4 linked regions of the Homo sapiens genome follow. The protein of the gene in region 1 interacts with the protein of each later gene in a pairwise test. Each region holds a gene or a part of one and is shown in the gene's direction. Other genes may lie near its edges.

Region 1 (7,844 bases):
ACTCCATCTTAAAAAAAAAAAAAGGGGTTCAGCAAGGTTTCCCAATACAAAATCAACATCAACCTGTAAAAATCAAAAGCATTTCTGTATAGCAGCAATAACCAACAAAAAAAAAAAGTAGGAATGAATTTAATACAAGAGACCTCTATTTTAAAGAATTTAAACTCTAACAATAGAAATTGATCTGAATAAAAGAGAGACATTTTATGCTCTTTGCTGGAAAGATTTTGGTAATATATAAGTTATTTTTAACAAATTATCCCAAAACTTAGTGGCTAAAACAATACACATTTATTATTTCACATGGTTTTGGAGAGTCAGGATTCTGAGAGTGGCTTAACTGGGTGGTTCTGACTCAGAGCCTCTCATGAGGCTACAATCAGGATGTTGGCCAGGACTGCAGTTATCTGAAGGCTGGGATCCACCTTTAAGAAGGCTTGCTCACATGGCTGTTGGCAAGAGGCCTTACTTTCTTGCCACCTAGATCCCTCCATAGGGCTGCTCATGACATACCAGCTAATGTCCCACATAATGAGCAGTCTGTGTGACAGAGAGCATGAAGCAGATGTGCCTTTTACAGCCTGGTCTTGGAAATGACACACTATCACTTCCACCTCATTCTGTGCTTTACAATTGAGTCACTAAGTCCAGCACACATGCAAGTGGAAGGAAGTTAGGCTCCAACTCTTGACGAGTACAGTATCAGAGTGTGACCATATCTTAAAACCTCCACAGTTAATATTATTAAGATGTTATTTTGGCCGGGCATGGTGGCTCACACCTGTAATCCCAGCACTTTGGGAGGCCGAGGTGGGTGGATCACCTGAGGTCAGGAGTTTGAGACCAGCCTGACCAACATAGACAAACCCCGTCTCTGCTAAAAATACAAAATTAGCCGAGCATAATGGTGGGTGCCTGTAGTTCCAGCTACCCAGGAGGCTGAAGCAGGAGAATTGCTTGAACCCGGGAGGCGGAGGTTGCAGTGAGCCGAGATTGCACCATTTTACTCCAGCCTGGGCAACAAGAGCGAAACTCCATCTCAAAAAAAAAGACGTTATTTCTCCCAAAATGTAAAAATTCAATGCACTCTCAATAACACTTCCATTACTTTTTTTTTTAATGTTTTGAAACAGGGTCTCACTTTGTTGCCCAGGCTGGAGTGCAGTGGCACGATCATAGCTCACTGCAGACTCCAACTCCTGGGTTCAAGCGATCCTCCTGCCTCAGCCTCCCAGGTAGCTGGGATTTGGGCGAGAGCCACCATGCCTGACCTCATTACTTCTTTTTGTTAGAACTGCAATACACTTACATTAGAATTTAGAATAGTAATGAATCATGGACAGTTAAGACAGCCTTCAAAGAAAGCGTTATGATGGGGATTTGCCCACTAGATATTAAGACATATTAAAGGTGTTAGTAATAAAAGGGAAAAAAAAAACAACAACAAACCTATATTGGCCCAAGAGCTAAGAAGTAGACCAATTAGAAGAGAAGGCCGGGCACGGTGGCTCACACCTGTAATACCAGCACTTTTGGAGGCCGAGGTGGGCAGATCACAAGGTCAGGAGATCCAGACCACGGTGAAACCCCGCCTCTACTAAAAAATACAAAAAAAAAAAATTGGCTGGGTGCGGTAGCAGGCGCCTGTAGTCCCAGCTACTCGGGAGGCTGAGGCGTGAACCTGGAAGGCAGAGCTTACAGTGAGCCGAGATCGCGCCACTGCACTCCAGCCTGAGCGACAGAGCGAGACTCCGTCTCAAAAAAAAAGACCATCCTGGCCAACATGGTGAAACCCCATCTCTACTAAAAATACAAAAATTAGCTGGGCGTGGTTGCACGCGCCTGTAGTCCCAGCTACTCAGGAGGCTGAGGCAGGAAAATCACTTGAACCCAGGAGGCGGAGGTTGCAGTGAGCCAAGATCGCGCCACTGCACTCCAGCCTGGCGACAGAGTGAGACTCTGTCAAAAAAAAAAAAAAAGCTCAGAAGTCAGGTACAATAGTGCTCCCCTGTAATCCCAGTTACTCAGGAGGCTGAGTTGGGGAGAATGCTTGAGGCCAGGAGTCAGCCTGGGCTCATCTCTTAAAAACAACAATAACAACAAAACCAGCAACAAACCACCTCAGAGACAGACCCATATATCTATGGAACTTGATACATGATAGAGGTGGTAAAACACACACAGGGATGGGACAGATTGCTTAATAGATGGTGATGGGGCATCTGGCTCATGACACAGAGAAAAATAAAATTGGAGCTCTATCTCACACCATATACAAGGACGAACTCTACATGGATTAAAGACCTAAATGTGGCCGGGTGCGGTGGCTCATGCCTGTAATCCCAGCACTTTGGGAGGCCGAGGCAGGCGAATCACTTGAGGCCAGGAGTTCAAGACCAGCCTGGCCAACATGGCAAAAACCTGTCTCTACTAAAAATGCAAAAATTAGCCAGGTGTGGTGGCACACACCTGTAATCCTAGCTACGCAGCAGGCTGAGGCAGGAGAATTGCTTGAACCCAGGAGGCGGAGGTTGCAGTGAGCCGAGATAGTGCCATTGCACTCCAGCCTGGGCAACAAGAGCGAAACTCTGTCAAAAAAAAAAAAAAAGAAAGAAAGAAAGAAACTGTAGGGGAACATTTTGTGACCTGGGAAAGAGAATGATTTCTTTAAAAGCACAGACCAGGCCGGGCGTGGTGGCTCACGCCTGTAATCCCAGCACTTTGGGAGGCCGAGGCAGGCGGATCATGAAGTCAGGAGTTTGAGAACAGCCTGAACAACATGGTGAAACCTCATCTCTACTAAAAATACAAAAATTAGCTGGGCATAGTGGCACATGCCCGTAATCCCAGCTACTCAGGAGACTAAAGCAGGAGAATCACTTGAACCTGGGAGGCGGAGGTTGCAGTGAGCTGAGATCATGCCACTGCACTCCAGCCTGAGCGACAGAGTGAGACTCCGTCTCAGAAAAAAGCACAGAACATAGGGGGAAAAATGATTATATCAAAATTATGGATCTTTATTCAACTAAGTTTACTGCTTACAAAGTTAATAACACAAATGCCAGAGCTGGAGAGGCTATTTCCAACACCTAAGGGATTAATAATTAGACTATGTGAGGAATCCCTGACAATAACAGGAAGATAAATATGGGAATTACCCCAACAGGAATATGGATGTACTGTATTCTGTATGTTAGCAAATTTGGTCTGTGTTGGGCAAATTCATTCTATGGATAAGAAATTTAGCCTCTGAGGGCAAACTAACTTATTCTTCGTTGATGTGGCGCTCAGAAGTGAAAAATCTGTCAAATCCATTTATTGTAAAGGTGGCCAAGACACTGAAGACTAAATTGTGAACAGTGGGCTCAGACACTACTTGATTGGGATAAGTCTATTGTGTATTGCGAAAGTCCCTTCTGTGAATCAAGGGCTCAGTTACTTTTTTTTTTTTTTTGAGACTGAGTCTTGCTCTGTCGCCCAAGCTGGAGTGCAGTGGCATGATCTCAGCTCACTGCAACCTCCACCTCCCGGGTTCAAGCGATTATCCCGCCTCAGCCTCCTGAGTAGCTGGGACTACAGGTGCCTACCACCACGCCCGGCTAATTTTTTTTTTTTTTTGTATTGTTAGTAGAGACAGGGTTTCACCATATTGGCCAGGGTAGTCTTGAACTCCTGACCTTGTGATCTGCCCACTTCGGCCTCCCAAAGTGCTGGGATTACAGGCATGAGCCACTGCGCCCGGCAAGGGCTCAGTTACTTTCGAAGAGAGCAAAAATTGCTCTATGGATTGGGATTTACAACCTCTGAAGATCGTAGCATCCTCTTTTGTTTTGTTTTGTTTTCACCCAGGCTGGAGTGCAATGGCGTGGTCTCGGCTCACTGCAACCTCCGCCTCCCGGGTTCAAGCGATTTTCCAGCCTCAGCCTCCCGAGTAGGTGGGACTACAGGCACGTGCCACCACACCCAGCTAATTTTTTTTTTCTTTTTTTTTTTTTTTTTTTTTTTTTGTATTTTTAGTAGAGATGGGGTTTCACCATGTTGGCCATGCAGGTCTCGAACTCCTGAACTCGTGAACCGCCCGCTTTGGCCTCCCAAAGTGCTGGGAATACAGGCGTGAGCCACCGCGCCCGGCCAGCATCCTGTTTTGTAAAAGCCATCTCAGGCAGTCTATTGGTGAGAAAATTAAGGGGCTGGCTTCACGCCAGCAGTCAGACAAGGGTGAGGGCTGAAGTCAGAGATGAGATGGAATGACGCCAGGGAAAAGGGTCCCATGACAGGCGGCTAGATGTTGAGCACAGAGGAGAAAGAGTAGGAGTCAGGGTCAAACCTTAAAACGTTGGGTCTGACATCATGGACTGTGAAGGGTGATGACATCAGTGACGGTGGGGGATAAAATGTCAGGCCTTTAAAGGGTATGAGGTTAAAGAACTAGAAGGTGAAGGAGGTTAACATCAGAGAATGGCAGGGACCTAGAGGAAGACGACTACGATGGTGAGGAAGACATCCGATCCAGCGGGGGAAATGATGGCAAGGACGGGAGGATGATGTCAGGGACAGCAAGTAGTATGAGATTGAGAAGGTTCCTTTGTGGAAGGGATAAAGGCAGCTCAGCCGGTTGTGGGGGGGATGCTGACGTTTAGGGTGCACCAGCTGTTCAAAAGTCGACCCCATTTCCGGAAACACCCCATTTCCGGAAACACCCCATTTCGCGGAGAACACTGCTCCCTTCGCTTTGCTGTCCCTTCCTCTCCCCACCACTCCGCTCCTGCTGGCCTCAGCCAATCAGCACGCACGCCGGGACGCGCAAGGGGAACGTTCCGGGACGTTCTCGCTACGTACTCTTTATCAATCGTCTTCCGGCGCAGCCCCGTCCCTGTTTTTTGTGCTCCTCCGAGCTCGCTGTTCGTCCGGGTTTTTTACGTTTTAATTTCCAGGTAAGTTGCATATGTCCTGCGAAACGGCGGCTCCTCGCCACACACGCGCCGCGCCGGCCGTGACCGGGGAATAGCGAGTGGGGAGAGTAATGGCCACTGACACGTAGGCTTGGCTTTCTCTGGGACGGGCGGGTCCCGTGCTTGGAGGTGAAACATTTCGGTTGGTGGGAGGCCGGCGCGCTGTATCTGAGTGTGAGGCCTACCGGGAGGGACTGGTGGCGTCGGTGGTGGCAGTGACCACGCGACAGCCGACACTTACTTTCCTTATCCCACGTGGCCGCCGCCATCTTGTTCTGCCGGCGTTAAGGGAACGCAGGGATGTTCTGGGCTTGCGCAGTGGCACAAAATGACGGGCGTGGCGGCTATGAATGTGAGAGCATGCGCAATGTGGCCCCCTAATGGTGGCTGCGCTGAGCCAGCTCCTCAGATTACCACCTTATTGGCCGCCTTTCTCAGCTTTTCTGTAGTTACCCATATTTTGTTCCTCTTTCTTGTCTATTTTCTGTGCTTTTTCTCTGCTTTCCGTCTCGCTATTTTCTCACATCTCCATTTTCTTTCTCCTTCCTGCCACCATTCTTCATGTTCTTCCCACAGGACTTGAACTGCCATGTCCTCTGAAGAAGGAAAGCTCTTCGTGGGAGGGCTCAACTTTAACACCGACGAGCAGGCACTGGAAGACCACTTCAGCAGTTTCGGACCTATCTCTGAGGGTGAGACGGGCCATACTCACAATGGGGGTTGGTGAGAGAAAGTCTGGGATCCTTGCATTTCAAGGAGTATTAACTGAAAAGTTAGGACCCACGCCTCCAAATTCTTTTTCTTCCTAAGCCTATGGTGTAGACTAAGGATGAGGGGAAGCGTCTTTGGGATTAGTGGGAGCGCTCCGTTTTCCCTACCTATGCCATCTCCTTTTCCGGCCACCCTTTGCTACTTAACCTTTGGGGTACTGACTGGTCCACATTGCTCCATCTTCTCTCCCTCTCACAGTGGTCGTTGTCAAGGACCGGGAGACTCAGCGGTCCAGGGGTTTTGGTTTCATCACCTTCACCAACCCAGAGCATGCTTCAGTTGCCATGAGAGCCATGAACGGAGAGGTGGGGCCTCCTATCTGCAGAGGGACCTTGTCCCCATCTGCGGCTTCCTTCATTCTTTTTGTTTTTCCCTCTGTGTCTGCTCGGGGCAGCGTGGCCACCAAGCCCCGCAGTGCCCACTCACAGGAGCATGACTGCCTTTTGTTCTAGGGGGTGGAGGGCAGCGGCAGACAGAGCCTGGCCGCCTGGGAGGCGACGACTGGTCCTGCATGAGGCCGAGAAGCCACCTGTGGATGGTTGACCTGCCTTGGGCTTAGGTAGTAGAGTCTGCAGACCTGTGGGCCTGGCCCGGAGAGGACCTCGTGAGTCTTCTGACATGGACTCTGAAGCCTCAAACCAAGAGAGGTGTCTGTCTAGCCCTGATAGTCGGGCAGCTTAGAGGAGTGGGGAGGAGAACTCAGCCTGAGTTCAGTCAAGATGTAAGTAGTAGCAAGGGGAACATGGTGCATTCAGGTCATTTTGTGTGGGATTCTATAGCTCCTGATGAAGCCATTCTGGGGTAAAGGAGCTTATTCTGGAACATGGCACCCAGAACCTGGTGCCCAGCAGGAATTTTTGGCCTCTTTTGCCCACTTACCCTTGCCTGCTCTTCCCTCACCATTGCCCTGACTGACTGCCAACCCATCATCCTTGTGTCTCCCACACTTAGTCTCTGGATGGTCGTCAGATCCGTGTGGATCATGCAGGCAAGTCTGCTCGGGGAACCAGAGGAGGTGGCTTTGGGGCCCATGGGCGTGGTCGCAGCTACTCTAGAGGTGAGTGCAGTGATCGTTTTGATCATGGGGTGAGAGGGAGAGTTGCCTATGTGTGGACAACTGCCATTTAAATATTTTTCTGCTCTAGGTGGTGGGGACCAGGGCTATGGGAGTGGCAGGTATTATGACAGTCGACCTGGAGGGTATGGATATGGATATGGACGTTCCAGAGACTATAATGGCAGGTGGGTAGCCAAAGGGCTGGGATGTTCTCCTATTGCTTCCCTCTCCTTAAGAACTCAGCGCCTGGGTGTTCATGCATACCACACCTTGCTGTTACTAATGTGTACCTAAAATGAGTATGAAATTTAGCATTTTAAGTTAATTGTGTAGTCATATAGTTGCGACATGGTAAAGTATACTATATATGTTGTGCTGTGTGGGTTATATAACTATATTGCTTTAACATGTAATATGATTTAATATACTGCGTATAAATCGTATGCCATAAAACTGTTTACTGTGATACTCATATGCTTAACATATCCTGTTTTTGATACGTAAGGTTTATGTTATGACCCATACTGTAAAATGTGACGCATATAATTACAGTGGTATATATAATGCAGTACCAGAAAACTTTTGTGTGTTTTTTTTCCCCCCCAGAAACCAGGGTGGTTATGACCGCTACTCAGGAGGAAATTACAGAGACAATTATGACAACTGAAATGAGACATGCACATAATATAGGTGAGACTTGGATATCGGCATTGAGTGAACCTGTTTGTCACACTCTGTCATGACCCTCTCACCTTTTCTGGCAAGACTGCTCTGCATTTCTGCTGCCCTCATACCTCACCCAGCCAACCTACCAAACATTCCTAGCTAGGCCTTCCTTGCTCTCAGGTGCATATCAGAGCAAGTTTGCTAGGGGGTGGGATCTGAAAACCCATCTCCTATAATCTTCTACTCTTGTGTGGGATGGAGGAAATGAAGGTGTGTCCCTGTTGTCCAACCCTCAGCATCTTCATCAGCTCTAGGAGGTGAGCATGTTGTCAGCTGTTACTTCATGACATCACAATTCTCCCCCTCTTGCTGTTCCCAGATACACAAGGAATAATTTC
Region 2 (7,592 bases), on another chromosome or scaffold:
GGAGTTCGAAACCAGCCTGGCCAACATGGTGAAACCCTGCTAGGGAAAGTTAGCTGGGCCTGGTGGGGGGATCCTGTATTCCCACCTACTTGGGAGGCTGAGGTGGGAGAATCGCTTGAACCCAGGAGGTGAAGGTTGCAATGAGCCAAGACTGTGCTACTACATTCCAGCCTGGGTGACAGGGCAAGACCCTGACTTCCCCCCAAAAAAATAAAGAAAAAGAAAATATAACTCAGACACATCTCAGCCTTTAAGCTTCAAGGTCATCCTCTCTACCTGCCTTTCTTCTTTTTCTTTTAAATAAAGAGGGGATCTTGCTATGTTGCCCCATCTAGACTTGATGGGCTCAATTAATCCTCCCAGCTCAGCCTCCAAAGTGGCAGGGACTATAGGCGCACACCACCAAGCCCAGCTTCTATCTGCCTTCTTATTGCCTAGGCTTTCCTGGTGGTGGGAAAGTTGGGGTCAGAATGGGGGCCTGCCCTGAAGTAGCCAGGCACACTCTCAGGAGTTGAGTTCCAGGGCAGTGTTTCCCAGGAGTGAGGCCATCTCTTTTCCCTACCCTAAGGATGAAATATTGAAGGATGATGTATGTACAGTACATCAAAGAGAAAGGGCCATTGGCTTCAGATAGCCCAGAAGCTCCAGGAATAGCCCAGTATTGGTTCAGCAAAGGTTTATTAAACACCTACTACTGAAAATGCCCACCATCATCTGCTCCTTGCTGGAGGCCAGGGGGCTGCAGAGGTTAAGGAGTTCTACTCACTCAGCAGGGTTTACAGCCACTCCTTGGAGTCAGAAAGCTTCCCATGTGGTAGGTGAGACTTCAAAACAAGGTATTCCCAGGTTCAACACGACACAGAGAAGGCACTCTGAGAGCACAGGGGAGAGAGAATGGGTACTGGGAAAGGTCTGGAAGCTGGGGGTGGAGAGTGAGGATGGGAGGATTCCAGACAAAAGGAATAGAAATTCGAGAAGCTCAGAGGTGATATGGAGCATGACAGTGGGGGAGGCCTGGGGCACTGAAGAGATTACTAGAGGCTACACTACTAGGTCATAGCTGGGGAGACAGAGATATAAGTTCCTACCCTTCAGATGTCTGAAAGAGTTGTACACCCCAAACTCCTCTCTCTAGCCTCTTTCACATCAGCTTCTGGTCAGCACCAATGGGTACGCCTGACTACTCATGAAGGTGCGGGCTGGGTGGGAGCTTTGTGTTTATATGATCTCCAAATCCATGTGAGATTGGAGATTCTGCCATTTCAGGGGCCATAGGGGTGCACAGAGAGGGAAAAGACAGTTGTTGCCTCCAAAGTGCTTAAGGGCTGGTCACACATACAGGAAACTTTCTGAGGCATTAAGAATGCTCATATAAGAGGGCGGGCTCATGCCTGTAATCTCAGCACTTTGAGAGGCCAAGGTGAGCAGATTACTTGAGGCCAGGAGTTCAAGACCAGCCTGGCCAACACGGTGAAACCTTGTCCCTACTAAAAATACAAAAATTAGCCAGGTGTGACAGCGAGTGTGGTGGCAGGCACCTGTAATCCCAGCTACTCAGGAGGCTGAGGCACGAGAACTGCTCGAACCTGGGAGATGGAGGATGCACTGCACTCAAGCCTGGTGACATAGTGAGACTCCGTCTCAAAGAAAAAGAAAAAAAAAAGAATCCTCATATAAAGTTTGCCTATGAAGGCAAAAGAGAAAATAAACTGGAAATAATACAAATATCTAACAAGAGACAGGTTAAATAAGTAATGGCAGTCTAATAAGGGGTAAGCATTTACTACAAATTATGAAGAACTTAAGAAGAAATACAGGCTGGGTGTGGTGGCTCACGCCTATAATACCAGCACTTTGGGAGGCCAAGGTGGGAGGATCACTTGAGCCCAGGAGTTCAACACCAGCTTGGGACAACATAATGAGAGGCCAGTCTCTTAAAAAAAAAAAAAAAAAATTAGCTGGGCGTGGTGTTGCACCTGTAATCACAGCTACCTGGGAGGCTGAGGTAGAAGGATCACTTGAGCCCAGGAGTTCAAGGCTGGAGTGAGCTGTGATTGTGCCACTGCACTCCAGCTTGGGTGACAGAGCAAGATCTTTTTTCTAAAAAAAGAAAAGAAGGCCGGGCGCGGTGGCTCACGCCTGTAATCTCAGCACTTTGGGAGGCTGATGGGGGCAGATTACAAGGTCAAGAGATCAAGATCATCCTCACCAACATGGGGAAACCGTCTCTACTAAAAATACAAAAGTTAGCTGGGCGTGGTTGTGCGTTCCTGTAGTCCCAGCTACTCAGGAGGCTGAGGCAGAATAGCTTGAAACTGGGAGGTGGAGGTTGCAGTGAGCCGAGATCGCATCACTGCACTCCAGTCTGGCAACAGAGCAAGACTGCATCTCAAAAAAGCCCCCAAAACAAAAAAAAAAAAAATGAAAAAAGAAAAGAAATGTAGTGATGGGGGTCAGTTGTGGCCCCTGTGTCATTTGTCACCTTTTTGGGCCTTAGCTCTCCCATCTATGGAGAAAACAGAGACCAGAATGGAGAAGAAGGGTGACCAGAATTACAAGATGAGAGGCTCTTCTTTGAAAAATTCAAATTAACCATATAATGGCTGAGTTCAGAAATCTGGCCAGGCTCCTTCTCCTGGAAAAAGCATGGGAAAGGCAGGATCTTGAGGGAAGGGAAGATTTTGGATTGATTAGGGGGAGCGGGGGAGGAAGAGGAAGAGGAAGAGTATTCCTGGGCCAAAGTTAGAGACAAACCTGATAGGAAGACCTATTCTAGGGGAGGGGATGGTGATCAAGCCCACAGCCAGATTGGACTGAGGCCTGTGGAGGATGGTAGGGGTATCTGAGGGTTCCCAAGGTTGGTTCTATCTGGAGATGCCTGAGGCTGGAGGCATCTTAAAAACTCTGGGTAAAGGTCTGGCTCCTACAGGCAGCAGCTCCCTCTTCATAGGGCCTGAGCCAAGTGTTGGCAACAGGGCTGATGGGAAACCAGGGTGCTCTTGGCCTTGCCACCAGCAGAAAATGGTCCCCAGCCCACAGTAGGTGCTCAATAATTATTTACTAAAGGAATGAGTATATCATTGGAAAGACATTGCCCATCTCTAGGCCTCAATTTATCTGTGAGATGGCAGGTCAGGATGGAGATTATAATTTACTGGGAAGACTAAGCCACAGCACAGTGATCCTGTGGTGCTAGTCCTACCTAATTCAGGAGGTCGACACACAGAGGTTCTGGGGGCTCAGGCACTTGTCCACGGTCTGGGATCCTAACCAGTCCGTGACTGCAAATCCAGCTTTTCTTTTTTCTTTTCTTTTTTTGAGACGGAGTTTCGCTCTTGTTGCCCTGGCTGGAGTGCAATGGCAAGATCTCGGGTCACCGCAACCTCCGCCCCGTCCAGGAGAAGGGGCACTGAGGAGGGACCCAGTTCTCCCGCGGCTCTGCCGGATTCAGGCTGCAGCGCTTCCAGCGCTCCCCGAGGTGGGTGCGGGTTTCTACTGTGGCAGCAGGGCGGGCCCCCATCGGCTGGGTTTTCAAATAGAAGAGAAAACCGACCCAGAGGCCGCGCCCTACTGACCTGCGCGGGGGTGCGGGGGGAGTCACGACGACCTCCCCCACCTCCCCCAGCCTCTAGGCTATTACATCCGTCCCCAGCCTTCGGGCTCAGAATAGGAGGCAGGGAAAGGTGTGAGGGGCACTGAGGTCGGGGGAGGAGCGAGAAGACCCGAAAGCCAGGCGTGTTGAGGGCAAGGTGGGCAACAGAACCTTCTTGGTCATTCGAGGCAGCCCTCGCTAATGACCATTGGGGTCCCAACACTCGAATCCCCACCTAAGTCCTATTCAGATAGTGACTGGGAGTGGGAAGGGAGTTTGAGATCCTAAGTCCCACCCTCTGGGCTGGGAGCCTGAGGCCAGAGAGGGGAAGTGATTTCCTCAAGGTCACTCAGCAAAACAGCGCCCAGCCCGGGCCAAAGCTCAGGTGTCTCCCAACCCCCTCCCCCCGGCCATCACCCCCAGAACTCGGTCCCCCGGAGCTGAGGTCTGCGCGACTGGATTTAGGGGCAGAATGAGTGCGTCGGGAACCCCAAAACCCTAGATCAAGATACAAGGGGAGTCGACGGCCCGGAAACCTCGCTGCGGGTGCCCTAAGCGCGAGGCCGCCCGGGCAGGGCCGCCCAGGGACCGGGGCGCTGGGTGCGGGGCACGGGGCTCCACCTCCCGCGGGCTGGGGCGCGCAGCGCGCGGCCCCTTTAAGAAAGTTCGCCGGGCGAGTTCATCAAAGTTTAAAAACTCGCCGTGGAGAAGGGCGCGGGGGAAGAGGAGAGAGGGAGAGCGCTGACCCAGGCGAGAGAGAGGGGAAAGGCCCGGCCGGAGGCCGGCGCCCCGCGGCCGGGGCCGGGGCGAGCCCACGGTGGGCGGTGGGGATTGGCTGCGCGTTCCCCCGGAGACCGCGCGGCGGGCGGGGGAGGGGGCTGGCCGGGCCCCAGCTGAGGCCGGTTCCGGCCCCGCCCCCCGCCGCCGGCGCCCGCCCCCTCCCCCGGCGCCCGCCCCCCGCCGCCGCTGCCGCCGCCGCCGCCGCCGCGGCGCACTCGCCGGTCGCAGTGAAAAGGCGGAGGCGGCGGCCCCTCCGGCTCCCACTGCCTCCCCCGCCGCACCCCCTCCCCACCTTCCGCACCCGCCAAACTTGATGTGACCCTGGCCCGACGCGGAGGCTGCCCCTCTCACTGCCCCGTGGGTCCCCCGCCACCCGCTCCGCACCCGCGAGCGCACCGCTCCCCGCGCCCCTTCCCACTTCCCGCGGGGCCGGCGCCGCGCTCGCCCTCGCGTTCCTTCCCGCCGCCCCCTCCCCCGCACCATGAGCAACCTGAAGCCGGACGGCGAGCACGGCGGCAGCACCGGCACCGGCTCCGGCGCGGGCTCCGGCGGCGCCCTGGAGGAGGAGGTGGGTCTGTGGCCCCGGGACTTGCCGGGTGAAGCGCACGCCAGGCGGGCGCGGGAGAGGGCGAGCGGGGCCTGCCGCGCCTCGCGGGGCCGGGGTGGCCATCGCTCCCGGCGCCTTCCCGCCGCTGCCCTCTCGCCCGGGTAGGAGCGGCCCGTGTCCGCGGGCGGGAGCGTGCGGCCTGGACTGCCCCGCCGGACAGGCATTGTCTCCCCGCCCTCTCGGGCTCGAGGCGGGCCGCGCGCGCCGGCCGCCGTCCGGGCGTCCCGCGGTGGGCGAGATGCGCCGCGTCCGTTCCATGCCTGCCGCCCGCGCGCCCCTTGCTCCCCACCCCGTAGCCGCTCGCCGCCCTCCTCCGAGGCGCACCTCCTGCGTGGCCAGGACCCCGCCTCGGCGGCACGGAGCGGAGCGGGATTAGCACGGCCCGAGGGCGGCACCCTCACTCCACTGCCTTTTCCGCCCTGACCCCCTCCCCGTGACCTTGGAGGCCTGGGCCGGCCGGCTCCTCGGTTCCTGCGAGCTGTTGTCATGGGGGTGGGCGGGCTTTCTTCACAGCCCCAGAACCTGGGCTTTGGCAGAGGTGAGCCCACAATTTAATTAGTTTGGAAGATGACTAAAGACACTCAGTTCGTCCTTCTCCTCTCTCTGGGTTTGTCCTGGCAACCAAGCCAGGACCCCAAAGCTGGCCTGGGTGGGATCCTGCCAGGAGGGGCGAAATCATCTCGTCCACCGGCCATGTGCGAAAGGGAGGGAGTGTAAGGCGGCTCCGTGGAACCACCAGCAGCTGGGTGGTTAATGGATGGTAGGGAGGATGTGTGTGCGGGGTGGGGTGCTGGATAAAAGCCTCAAAGATATCAGTGAATAGGGACGAGGAGCTAGGCTGGCGGAGACAAGAACTGGAGTAGAAGGGGACAGGCTTCGCAGGGCCTCTGGCCTCTGCTGCGTCATTCTAGGGGTGAGAGAGCCTTCCTGCCCCTGCCCTGGCATGTTCTCGCCCAGGAAACCAAGGGCTGGTTATCCACCTTGGGCGCCCTTCCCCTTGGCCTGGGGGAGAAACCGCAGAGCCCCTGGTGTGGACTGGTGTTGCCTCCTCCCCTTGTGCTGGGGGTTGGTGCAGAATGGCGCCGGTGGCCCTCGGCTGGGCTGGGCTCAGCGCCGCCAGCTCCCACTCGGCTATTCAGAGACCTTCAGCCAGCCCCAGTCGATGACAATCTAGGTTTGGATCTCCACTTTTTGGCGGAAGGGGAAGGGAAGAATATACAACTGTGACATCTGTCCACTAATGACTTAAGTGTGGTGGATTTGTTTGGGCTCCAGAGGCCTTGCCCTCCTTGTACCTTGATGCCAAAAGGCCCTTGGCTTTGGGGATCTTGCCCCCATCCTGACTCTACCTGGCTGTTAGAATCTCCCTTGACAGTTGGGGAGGGTGACAGGGTTGCTAGCGTACTTGGAGTCTCTGCTTGGCCCCCTGCTGTGGGCTGAAACTGGGGGAGAGCATGTCTCCTATAAAGCTGAATGGGGACCCAGAACCCCACTTCTGCTAAAGGGTCTACTTCAGTGGGGACTTCACACTGCCCAAGAGGCTGGTACTGGGCAAACCCTCAGACCCACTGCTGTTGGGTGAGAAGGGTGACCCATGTGGCCATTCTAAGTCTTGAAAAAAGCATTTGAGGTTTTAGCCACTCCTTTCTAAGTACCTTTTCTGGGAAAGAGGGCAGGATTCTCAAAAAGTGGAATCCCTACTATTCCTCCTTGGGAGTTGAGATGGCCTGCGGCCCTATGGTGGTTCCAAATCCGCGCACTTGGAAAAGGGCATGGTGGGCTCGCGTTTAGCAGAGGTCCAGAACAAAGGGTTCTGAGGGTCTCCTGGAGCCCAGTGTCTGTCTGGTCTGGTAAGGGAAAGGGTTATTCCCCAAGCCCTGGCCTAGTCTTCTGAATAGTGGGCCATGAGCCCCTGTGCTGGTGGCTCCATCTTGGATTGGTGGTGTAGGCTGGAACTGGAATCCTCCCTGTAGTTTAGATGCTCCCTAAGCAGTCAGTTCTGCAGCCCCTAAGAGCAACCATCTGGAGAATCAGCGTTAGCAGTGGTTTACTCCCATGGCTGACACAGGTGGCTTCTTCCCAGTCAACTCTTGGAGACTAGCGAGAGCAAGCCCAGGAAACCAAGGAATGCTGCTGCACGCCGTAAGACCTCAATTCCTAAAGGCGCTGGGTCACTGGCGAAGGGAGTGTATTTTTCATGGTTCTGGGAGTTATCAGTGAGGTTGCTTGTCCTGAACTGCTTTGGATAGCCTTGACTCTGCCTGCTTGACTACCTTACCTATAGGCTTTATCCATGTCATACGCATTAAGTTTTCTTTCTGGACCCAGGGGTTAAGGATACAAGTGAAAATTCTCAGCCTAGGAGGTCGGAAGGACTTGCCAGGAAGTGGTGGTAGGTGAAATGCAATGATAGATAAAATAAAGGCATATGAGCACATGGTACCATGGTGCTCCTGAGAGATTAGAGGTCAGCCTTCCCTGAGATGTGGGTGAGTAGGAGGAGCAAGGTTAGACCTGTGGGGGTGGAAAAGGCATTCCAAGAGGAGGGAGTCGCATGTATAAGTGAGGAGGTAGGTTTGTGTAACCACATGGCTTGTTTGGGTAACTACCTGG
Region 3 (3,960 bases), on another chromosome or scaffold:
AACCTGGGAGGCAGAGGTTGCAGTGAGTCGAGATCACGCCACTGCACTCCAGCCTGGATGACAGAGCAAGATTGTCAAAACAAAAAATAAAAATAAAGTCAACTTCAAAGAAACAGTAGAATGATGGTTACCAGAGGCTGGGGGAAGGAAGCTGGAGGAAGGGGAGTTTTGTTTAATGGGTACAGAGTTTCAGTTTTGCAAGATAAAAAACTTTTGGAGGTCGGGCATGGTGGCTCGTGCCTGTAATCCCAGCACTTTGGGAGGCCAAGTCGGGCGGATCATGAGATCAGGAATTCAAGACCAGCCTGGCCAATATGGTAAAACTCCATCTCTACTAAAAATACAAAAATTAGCCAGGCGTGGTGGTGGGCGCCTGTAATCCCAGCTACTTGGGAGGCTGAGGCAGGAGAATCACTTGAACCCAGGAGGCAGAGGTTGCAGTGAGCCAAGATCGCGCCACTGCACTCCAGCCTGGGCGACAGAGCGAGACTCCATCTCAAAAAACAAACAAAAACTTGGAGATCTGTTTCACATCAATATGAATATATGTAACACTACTGAACTGTACACTTAAAAATAGTTAAGATGGTAATTTTTATGTGTTTTTTACCACAATAAAAACCGAACAAAACAAGGCATGATGATTCATGCCTGTAATCCCAGCACTTTAGGAGACCAAGGTGGGAGGATCACTTGAGCCCAAGAGTTCAAGACCAGCCTGGGCAGTGTGGCAAGACCCAATCTCTCATTAAATAAATAATAATAACCAAACAAAAAAATAACCACCACTTTTCACACTCACCATGGCAAAATTTAAAAACCTAACAATTCCAAGTGTTGTCAAGGCTATAGGACAACTGCTGGTGAGAGTGCAAATTGGTATAACCACTGTGAAAAAAAAGTTTGGCATTATGTATGAAACTTGAGCATAACATATACTTTATAAGCCAGTAATACCTCTACTACGTATATATTCAACAGAAATGCATACGTATGTGTAACAACATGTATAAAAATGTTTATAGTGGCATTTCTCGTTATAGCCCCAAACTGGATACCACCCACATGTCCATCATCAGTAGAATGGATAAATAAATTGTTGTGTATGCATGCAATGGGACTACACTGCAACGAAAATGAATGAACTGCTGCTACAGGCAACCTGGATGAATCTCACAAACATGATGTTGAGCGAAAGGAGCCAGACATAAAAGAATGCAGACTGTATGATTCCATTTTTGTGAAGTTCAAAAACAGGCAAAAACTAACCTATGGTGTCAGGATAGTGGTTACCTTTGGGGAGGAGGGTGGGTAATGGGAAAAGGGGCACAAGGGGAGGATCTTTTGAGGTGCTAATAAGGCTTTATCTCTTCACCTGGTGGTGGAAACTCAAGTGTGTCTACTTTGTGAGAACTGGGTTGTGCACTTAAAACTGGTGTGTCTTTATGTATGCTGTTCTTCAATAAAAAAAATTTTTTTAATCACGGTTTATCAGGATTCAGCTGCCCATTAGACACCTTTCTGTGTCTCTCTCTCTCTCTCTCTCCAGCTCTTCACAGAGGTCCTCCAGGATCAAGGGGACCACTGATTCCACCACTGCTGAGTCTCCCACCTCCTCCTTGGGGTAGAGGCCCAATTCGGAGAGGGCTTGGCCCCAGGTCTAGCCCATATGGTCGTGGTTGGTGGGGAGTCAATGCAGAACCTCCTTTTCCGGGGCCAGGCCATGGGGGTCCCACCAGGGGAAGCTTTCACAAGGAACAGAGAAACCCTCGAAGGCTCAAAAGCTGGTCTCTTATCAAGAATACCTGCCCGCCCAAGGATGACCCCCAGGTTATGGAAGGTGAGGTCCATTTTGTTATGCCCATTACTCCCAGAGTGACCTAATTTTCAGAAGATCATTCACAATCTTCTCTGGGCTTTCCTTTTTGCTTTTGAAGCAGAAGTAGACCTCAATGTTATTTCTCCCAGGAGAAAGACTACCATTCCAAAATACCTGGAAATGGTAGGGGGTAGAAAATCAGTTCTCCTTCTGTCTCTGCGTTTCATTGTATTTGTTTTCTTTGTTGCTCAAATTTTTAACTGTTCCATTTTCACTTGTTCACAGACAAATCCGACCGCCCTGTCTGCCGACATTTTGCCAAAAAGGGCCACTGTCGATATGAGGACCTCTGTGCCTTCTACCATCCAGGCGTCAATGGACCTCCTCTGTGAGACTGTGCCTTCCCATCCAGGCTGGAAGGAGCTCTCTGTGACCTAGCGGCCATTTATTTCTCTGTAGCCCTATGATGGCTACTGTGAGGCTCTTCTAACACCCTCAGTCAGTGACACACCCATCCCATCCACCACTTCCCCCGTGTGGGGTCCAGAGTGGTGTTGCATCACTGGTGCGCGGCATACGCGCTTTCTTCTGATCCAGCCTGTAGAGACTCGCCTTTGGGACCCATCTTTGCTTCCTTTCAGTTGCCTCCTGGATCTTCTTTCCCGTCATCAAATGACTGCTGAACAGGAAACCTCTTTGGTGCTGTTTCTTGTGCATCTGTCCACCTGTTCCCCAGTATTGCCCTCAATTCCTGAGAGCCCTGGAGCGGTTTCCTACCATTCCCTTCTTTTAGCTGCTTGTTTTAAGTCCTTTTTATGTGACATTCCCTACCCCCAATGTTGTCAGCTGCTTGTGAAACTCAGCCAGGTTGTCTAACCTGGGGTCAAGTTTGGGTGACTGGTGCAGAGTTACTTCCTAAAAGGCCACTCTCCCTGCCTTTGGATTTCATAGTTTCTCTGTCAGTAGCATGATCCCCACCGCTATGGTCTATCTATGATCACCGTGCTTTGTGAAACTGTGCATCCCCTTGTAGCCTTTCTCAGTGTCCGTGGCATTTTTGTGACTTCCCAGCACTAGAATAAGTTTTCCTGCCAAAATGAGTGAGGCGCTTGGTGCCCTCTGGACTTTCCCACTTCCCAACATGGGAGAATTGTGAACTTTCCATCAGACTGCCTCCCTGGCCCTCCCCATTCTTCTCCTGTTGGTTATTCTGAGTCTGACACAGACCCATGACATGTCTTATAAAGCCTCCAATGGCTTTATCCTACCTAGATCCCTTCCAGCCCATTTTAATTAGACTATGTCATTGTGAGGCCACCAGTCCATTCATTTGAATTCTGTGAATCTCCACCTTGCCTATCTTTGGGTAGAAGCTGGACAGTACTGTTGCCCTCTTCCAATCCTCTTCCCCTACATCCCTGGCACTGGTTGTTTTCTGTGAAAACAGCAGTGAACAGGTTCAGTTTTGAACTGGCCCTGAGGAAATGGGTCAGGAGTTGTATTGGCAAGAGGGAGGGGTGAGAGCTGTTGGAGAACTGAGAATGAGGTTTTTTTTTTTTTTTTCTTTTTAACTTTTTTTATATTAGTAATAAATGCAGTGGAAACCAGCATTTTATTTAATCCCTGTGTTCTAGTCATCTCTGGAGTTGCAGATGAAGCTGTTCTCACCTGGTGGAGTCAGCTTATTCTTTAGTTCATACACACTAGTGATGGGGAATGACAAAGCTTAAGGTTCTTCCAGGCTGAAAAAAACCAATGGAGGTTCCATTAGCCTGTAGGCATCAACCAGAACAAGCTGCCTTATGTTCAAGGGCAAAGTTTTGTAAGAAAAAGGAAAGGCCAGGTGTCCGTGGAGTTATTTTTAAATATTTTACTTTGCAGAGTTTGTGTTTATGGAGTGGTAATGATGAAGGAGTCTTTCAGCAGCAATTTGCAGAATGCCTGTGGGCCAGGCAATATACCAAGCACTAGAGATAACTGACAGCCAAAGCCAATGGATTTAAAATGTACAGGGAAGACAGGTTTCTCATAATCACAAATAGCATGTAAAGTTAAACCTGTCAAAAGTGCTGGGAAGAAGACAGGGAAGAAAAGAGGGTGAAAGAGAGTTGTGTAATAAAGGGAGTCAGGGTAGGAGATGC
Region 4 (7,031 bases), on another chromosome or scaffold:
GTGTTTTCAATGAGAATGATTTCAGTTGATTGTTACTCAGAAGAGTTCTTGAATAATGTAGTTTGAAGTTTGTTTATAATATGCTTAAATAATTAAAATAATGTTCATCCTGCGATTATAATGTTGTTTAGTTATCCACTTGTTATGGTAGGTGCTTTTGAATATGATAAAACAGCAAACTCAGGACTATCCTTAAAGTTCTACTCAGTGTCTGAATTTGGTTGCCAGATGAAATTACATAAGTTTATTTATATCTTTTCTGCTTCTGGGAAGTGCATTAAACTGTGAATCTAGATACCTAGATTTGAATTCCACTTTAACCTCAACTGAATCTGGGTAAGCTTTCTTTCCCTGGGCCCAGTTTCCTTGTCTCTCAAATTAAGGAGTTGGACTAAGTGATGTATATGTTTTTTTGCAATTCTAATTAAGTCTCAGGCTACTGATGATACAACGAAGTGATGTTTGTATATTCGGAACAAAAATTCAATGGCTGCACATTTTTGAAACTTTTTTCATTCTTTCCTAGTTTAATGATTAATAATATATTTATGGCACTAAAATGTAATTTGAGGCATATACTTTATTTTGGGTACTGGGGACAGATTTATGTTCTTAAGTCTATTGAACTACTATTAATGTTTGAGGCCAAAAATGTATATACATGAAAATATTATCTGGAAATATTCTGTGTCTGCTGACAGACATAGATCTGTTCAGATTTATATATTCAGTTATGGTGATTCCATACTCCTAGGAGCATTATAAATTTTTGTCCAATTAAGAGAGGTTTGGGGAAGATTTTCTAGCCTGAAATCTTTGCAAGCACTGAAATAATCATAACCATTTTGGTTGACTCATTATATGACGATGTCAAATATTGCCAAATATTCCAGCAGTTCGAATGGTTTTCAAAAAACTGTAGGCGCTATTTTCAAACTTTAGTAAAAAGTTTGACCTGCCATCTAGACTTGGCCTTTATTTCTGCAGATATAAATGAGATCTTAAAAATATTAAGAAAAGAGGGATTAATACTTACCACACATGCAAACTTGTGAGTTAACTACATTTAGATTATCAATAAGAACCATTTTTTAGTTAGATCGTGTTTCTTAAATATTTTTCATAAAGCTTGATAAGTTTTTTAATTAAGGAAAGTTATTAGTGTCATGTCTAAAACAGCTTCTGGTTAAAAAATAGTGTTCCTGTGACTCTTTAAAGTGACTTTTCTTTTGATTAACGTAATCACCTTTTTCTCCCAATAGACTTGGGATAATCTTATGTTTCTTAAATACAAAACAAACATGGGCAAAAAATTAAATTCAAGTTATCTTTGATCTTCAATTAAGACAATTTATGATATAGTGGAAAATTTCTACTTTGACAAGAAAAACACTTGGGAGTGATTATTGACACTTCTACCTACTGGGAAATAAAGGATGTGTCATTTTTTTTCCACCTCTCTGATACTCAGTTTCTTCATCTATATAACAGGAAAAGTGATACCTACCAGGCAGGGTTCTTTTAAGATGAAAAAACAAAAACAAAAACAAACAAACAAAAAACAACTTCTGCTTGTGATGCTTGTGATAACATAAGCCGTATTTTAAAAATTTATTTTATTTTATTTTTGAGACAGAGCCTTGCGCTGTTGCCCAGGTTAGAGTGAAGTGGTGCGATTTTGGCTCACTGCAACCTCTGCCTCCTGGGTTCAAGCAATTCTCCTGCCTCAGCCTCCCAAGTAGCTGGGATTACAGGTGCGTGCCACCACACCCGGCTAATTTTTGTATTTTTAGTAGAGACTGGATTTCACCATGTTGGCCAGGCTGGTCTCAAACTCCGAATTTTGTGATTGACCTGCCTCATCCTCCCAAAGTGCTAGGATTACAGGCATGAACCACTGTGCCCGGCCAATAATTTTTATGTGTATAACAAAAATATAAGCAGAAATTAAACAAACATAACATGATGATGCACCTCAATTTGAGAAAATAAGTAAAATAAACACTGCCTTACTTTAGATTACTGCTGAGTTACATTTGAACTCATAAAGCAAATTATGAAATAAATTACCTTATGAAAAAGGATTAGATTGAGGGTTTTAAAAATATCATGTTTAGTAAATGATCACTTGTCAGTCTTTAACCATGGGCTTGATTAGCCCTGGTCCTATTTATTTCAAGAGTAATTTCAGACCTATTCAGGCTTCATCTTAAACCCACATGTTCTTCACTCTCAGCAGGTGATTTCATCATCTGTTTTATTGGAGGAAATGGATATCTCTCTTCTGCTATTCCTCAACCTCCTACCACCTAAAAACTTCCATAGCCATCGTCATTGTCTTTCATTCCCAGAAGACCAAATGTTTCTTTTCTTCAGGGTTGACTTGCCATCCATATCCTTGACCCAAATGCTCTTCATCTCTGGACTCATTCTGTAGTTAAATCCTTTATTTGTATCTCCTACTCTTTCTCCCGATCGACTCTTTCTTTATAGCAGCTGTCAACATGATTCAATGTGAATAATTTGAAGAAATAGAATACTTCTTTCACTTGCCACAAATATTGGAAAATAATCTCTCTTGACATTTGTCCTTCCTTGTTTCCTTCAAACTTCTGATAATACTAGTATATACTAGCTGCCTCACTTTCTTAATTTACCTTTTTAGAATTATTCGGTTTGGCTTCTGTCTTCATCACTGTCCTGAAACTGATGACCCTAGTGACAGAATAATCTCATATTGCCAAATTGAGTAAATTTTTTCTGACCCCTTATCAAGTCTCTTGGCTGCACTTTCCACTGTTGACCTTCTTCTGATTTCTTTCCATCTTCCTTGTCTTCTGGGCACTATATTCTACTGGTTTTACTTCCTTTTTTGACCGTTTCTTGCCCTCATCATCCTTCATTTCCCTCCTTCCCACACCAACACACACAATGCTGTCACAGTAATTCATTTAAAGTCTCACCATGTCACACTTCTTAATAATTTCCATTGCCTGCAAGGCGTAGTCCATACCCCTTGACGTTCTTATAATATGCTTACCTCTCCAGAAGCATCTCTTCAGCCTTTCTGCTTAATTTCTCTCAGGTATACCAAACTGCTTATAATTCACTCTCTACACTCCCTTGACATTCCCATACCTATTCACAGAAAGCTAGATATTTTCCCCTCATTCCCATAACGAACGCCTCTAGATCACTATTCAAACTGTTATTTTAGAATGATCAGGTTGTGCCTGTCTCTCTCACTAGAGAAACAGCTCCTCTCTGTCTCCTCTTGAGGAGCAGAACCAAGTCTTTTTCATCACTATATTAGCAGCACTTTTCACAGTGCCTGGTATGTGATGGTGCCAGGTAGAGGCCAAACAGGCTTTTCTCCATCAGATTTGAGAACCAGCCCCCTGTTGGCCCCTCTGCTACCTCTTCCGCATGTGAATAACACTTGCTCTTCTCTCTGTCCTCTCCTATCTCTAAGGTGTTGCACATGCTAAGACCTCACTTTAGAATGCCCTTTCTAGCTTCTCTCCATGATTATAATTTATCTTCATCCAATAAAACTGAGTACTGCTATTCCTTCTTCTAGTAAGCCTTTCATAATGGCTTCTCATCTAATTCATTATAAATTAAGTGCACTTCTGGTTTTATTTTCAACCTATCCACCACTACTACATTGCAACATGCAATTCTTTTTGATCTTGGTTGTCTCCCCCTCTAAGCTTGAGGGCCATACTATGACTTCTGTCTTTGAATTTTTAATGCTTGCCTTCAGTCTTATATGTAGAAGGCCTCAATAAATGTTTCTTAACTGAATGATGCTGACCTCATATCTTCCTTTTTCTCCTACCATGTGTTTAGAAGATATCTCCAGAAACAATTTTTCAGTAATTCTGTCACTTACAATGATAATACTAATTCAGTCATATTTTATCTTTGCATAATTCAAAACCTCAGGAGGCCACTTTGAAAGTTTCCATTTGTTTTTAAGTCAATTTTGAAAAATTATTCATATGCAGGAAGTTGGAAAGATAGTACAGGGAAGTCCTTCTTTACTCTGTGAGGTATCTGAGAATCTGCCCATTTGTTTCTTTGTTGTTTGGATTGAGGCTTTGTGTGTGTCTGCTTTTTATTTATTTTTATTTATTTATTTATTTATTTTTTGAGATGGAGTCTGGCTCTGTCACCCAGGCTGGAGTGCAGTGGCACAATCTCAGCTCACTGCAAGCTCCGCCTCCCGGGTTCAGGCCATTCTCCTGTCTCAGCCTCCTGAGTAGCTGGGACTACAGGCACCCGCCACCACGCCTGGCTAATTTTTTGTATTTTTAGTAGAGACGGGGTTTCACCGTGTTAACCAGGATGGTCTCAATCTCCTGACCTCGTGATCCGCCCACCTCGGCCTCCCAAAGTGCTGGGATTACAGACGTGAGCCACCACGCCTGGCCGTGTCTGCCTTTAATACTTCTGAGTTGCTGGCTTTTCTAGCACTCAGTCTGGCACATACGCGGCACAAAGAAAATCTAAGAAAACCATTGAAATGTCATTCCCGAATCTTGTGGTACTGAGACAATTGGCCTCCTTTTTTCCACTTTCTAGAAAAGAAAGTCTTCTTATGTTTATCTGTAATGTCCCATCCGCATTCATTTATGTGTTTTAATTTATATTTTTATGAAATTTTCTTTTGATTGACTATTAGGCCTTGTACATTAATATTAATATTTCATTGACTAGTTATATAGGAATGAGCATGACCACGATAAATTCATCTAGATAATGGACACAGTAGTATTCTCTATATTTATCTGATTTTAAGGTTTTTTTATGGCCTGGTACCTGAGAATGGGAACATAACTGATCATTATTCTCAGTTTCTCTTTATGTATACAGTCTATAGTGAAGCTGTTTGTTCCCACAGCAGCTGTACAAGGGGAGGAAGTGAGGTTTGGAGGTAGTTTTTAGAAACCCCTGGAAATAACTGTGTAGTATCATCAGCTTTCCTTTTGCACTTATTTGAGCACTGAATTTGATCTTTCTTTTTGGTTTGGCTATATTATGAGAAATATATCTTCATTGGAATTATATTCTGGCATCAGTTTGATTTTTTAAAGCTATAAACCGTGTAATATTTAATATATTTCATAGATCAAAATTTGGTACTATTCCCCACAAACTGCTGAATTCCAATAAAATAAACTGAATTTGGAAATTTTTTTAGAGGTGGAATAACCACTAATAGATGATATTCTACATTAATGTTAGCAAATATCCATATTATATGGCTTCCTCATCTTCTCAAGTGCAGAGTTCTGTAGTGATTGCATCTTTTATTTGCCAAATACTTGTGAGGTCATGGCCAAGCATCCTCTTGCTCCATTGTTATTAACTTTTTTGGAGGAAAGAAGTCATTTTTAGCACATCCTCCATTTGACTCATAACAGTACTTCCAAAAAGATTTTGCAGTATAGAGAGATAATAAACAATCATAAAAGCATTAGGCTATTTACCTTATATTTTAGTTATAGTTTGGAGGATTAATTCCATCAGACTAGTACTCTACTGCATTTGACTACACAATCACATATGCCCTTGAATGTGTGTTGTTAAAAACTGCATATGGGCCGGGCACAGTGGCTCACGCTTGTAATCCCAGCACTTTGGGAGGCCGAGGCAGGTGGATCACAAGGTCAGGAGATCGAGGCCATCCTGCCTAACACGGTGAAACCCCATCTCTACTAAAAATACAAAAAAATTAGCCAGGCGTGGTGGCGGGCGCCTGTAGTCCCAGCTACTCGGGAGGCTGAGGCAGGAGAATGGTGTGAACCCGGGAGGTGGAGGTTGCAGTGAGCCGAGATCACGCCACTGCACTCCAGCTTGGGTGACAGAGCAAGACTCCGTCTCAAAAACAAAACAAAACAAAACAAAAACAACAGAAAAACCCAAAAAACTGCATATGATATGTGCTATTAATAAATGAAGTATCAAATGTTTAATTTATGGGGTTTATAATCTATAGGGGATTCAACTACATATATAGACAGATATTTATATATATACATATATGATATAAATAAGTATATGGAAGGTCTGATAGATTTTACAGAAATTTTAGAGACCACTGATATAGGAATTCAGAGAAAGTCATAACTTCTGTTGTTTATGGTAATGAGAGATTTATCATTATTACCATTATCATCATCTCAACATTTATTGAGTTTACTCTTTGCCAGACACTGTACTAGACGATGCATTACCACAAGTAATCTACCCACCAACCTTATTGTGTAGTTATTAGCATTAGTTTTACAAATTAAACAAATTAAGGCTTAGATAAATTAATTTATATCAGGTCTCACAGCAAAGAAATTGTAAAGTTGAAACCCAGGCCTTTTCACCTAGATGCCACGTGTAACCATTACACCACATTGTCTCCTGTGATAGAGACCCAATGTTAGGCTTTGAAAGAATGTCAGCTATTAGTATGCACATTTTATCTAGAAGATCAATGTTGTTGTTGCCATTAACTTCTAAAATATGTTTCTGAATACAAATATTGGATGAATTATTATATGATATCATAAAATATAAGTATAGCTTATAAAAGTCAAATAAATTTATGAATGGGGGAATTTACCTTAGTATAGAATTGAATTAAGGATCATCAAGACAGCCTACTACATTTTCTGAATGACTTACATTGACTGCTTCTTAGAGAGCTTAGTGATGTGGTGGCAGAGCAGAGGGAACATTTCAGACTTCTTTGGACCCAAAAAGTGATTGGATAATTTTGTGTGGTTTGCTGAGGCATTTTTTTCCCCACATTTTTTAGAGAACTGCTTACATTTGCTGAATTCTTCTAGAAGCAAAGAACAACTGTAGGCCCTCTCTTGGGTCTTGAGGCAGTCAGGGTTTTGTTTAACATTTAGAAGTGAGCAAATTTTACGTTTGATCAGAAACAGAAGACAGTATAGCTTGATTTAAATGTTATCTGTATGTTCTGAGGTATTAGAATTTAATAACTTTGAAACAGATTGGCTGGTGTT

The links.
Region 2: the proteins of RBM3 (region 1) and RBPMS2 interact in binary tests that used the Homo sapiens proteins (3 or more experiments, as listed by UniProt).
Region 3: the proteins of RBM3 (region 1) and PRR3 interact in binary tests that used the Homo sapiens proteins (3 or more experiments, as listed by UniProt).
Region 4: the proteins of RBM3 (region 1) and KHDRBS2 interact in binary tests that used the Homo sapiens proteins (3 or more experiments, as listed by UniProt).

The regions. Positions count from the first base shown.
Region 1 is NC_000023.11:48,569,640-48,577,483, forward strand, and holds the start of RBM3 (RNA-binding protein 3), read left to right. Parts: upstream 1-4,844; 5' UTR 4,845-4,934; intron 4,935-5,528; 5' UTR 5,529-5,541; coding exon 5,542-5,644; intron 5,645-5,921; coding exon 5,922-6,028; intron 6,029-6,674; coding exon 6,675-6,780; intron 6,781-6,868; coding exon 6,869-6,965; intron 6,966-7,386; coding exon 7,387-7,447; 3' UTR 7,448-7,470; intron 7,471-7,825; 3' UTR 7,826-7,844. UniProt on the Homo sapiens protein: Cold-inducible mRNA binding protein that enhances global protein synthesis at both physiological and mild hypothermic temperatures. Reduces the relative abundance of microRNAs, when overexpressed.
Region 2 is NC_000015.10:64,772,581-64,780,172, reverse strand, and holds the start of RBPMS2 (RNA-binding protein with multiple splicing 2), read left to right. Parts: upstream 1-4,583; 5' UTR 4,584-4,853; coding exon 4,854-4,940; intron 4,941-5,429; exon of another isoform or gene 5,430-5,517; intron 5,518-5,721; exon of another isoform or gene 5,722-5,736; coding exon of another isoform or gene 5,737-5,739; intron 5,740-7,592.
Region 3 is NC_000006.12:30,560,285-30,564,244, forward strand, and holds the end of PRR3 (proline-rich protein 3), read left to right. Parts: intron 1-1,043; coding exon of another isoform or gene 1,044-1,082; exon of another isoform or gene 1,083-1,481; intron 1,482-1,549; coding exon 1,550-1,840; intron 1,841-2,104; coding exon 2,105-2,211; 3' UTR 2,212-3,439; downstream 3,440-3,960.
Region 4 is NC_000006.12:62,276,218-62,283,248, reverse strand, and holds part of KHDRBS2 (KH domain-containing, RNA-binding, signal transduction-associated protein 2), read left to right. Parts: intron 1-7,031. UniProt on the Homo sapiens protein: RNA-binding protein that plays a role in the regulation of alternative splicing and influences mRNA splice site selection and exon inclusion. Binds both poly(A) and poly(U) homopolymers. Phosphorylation by PTK6 inhibits its RNA-binding ability.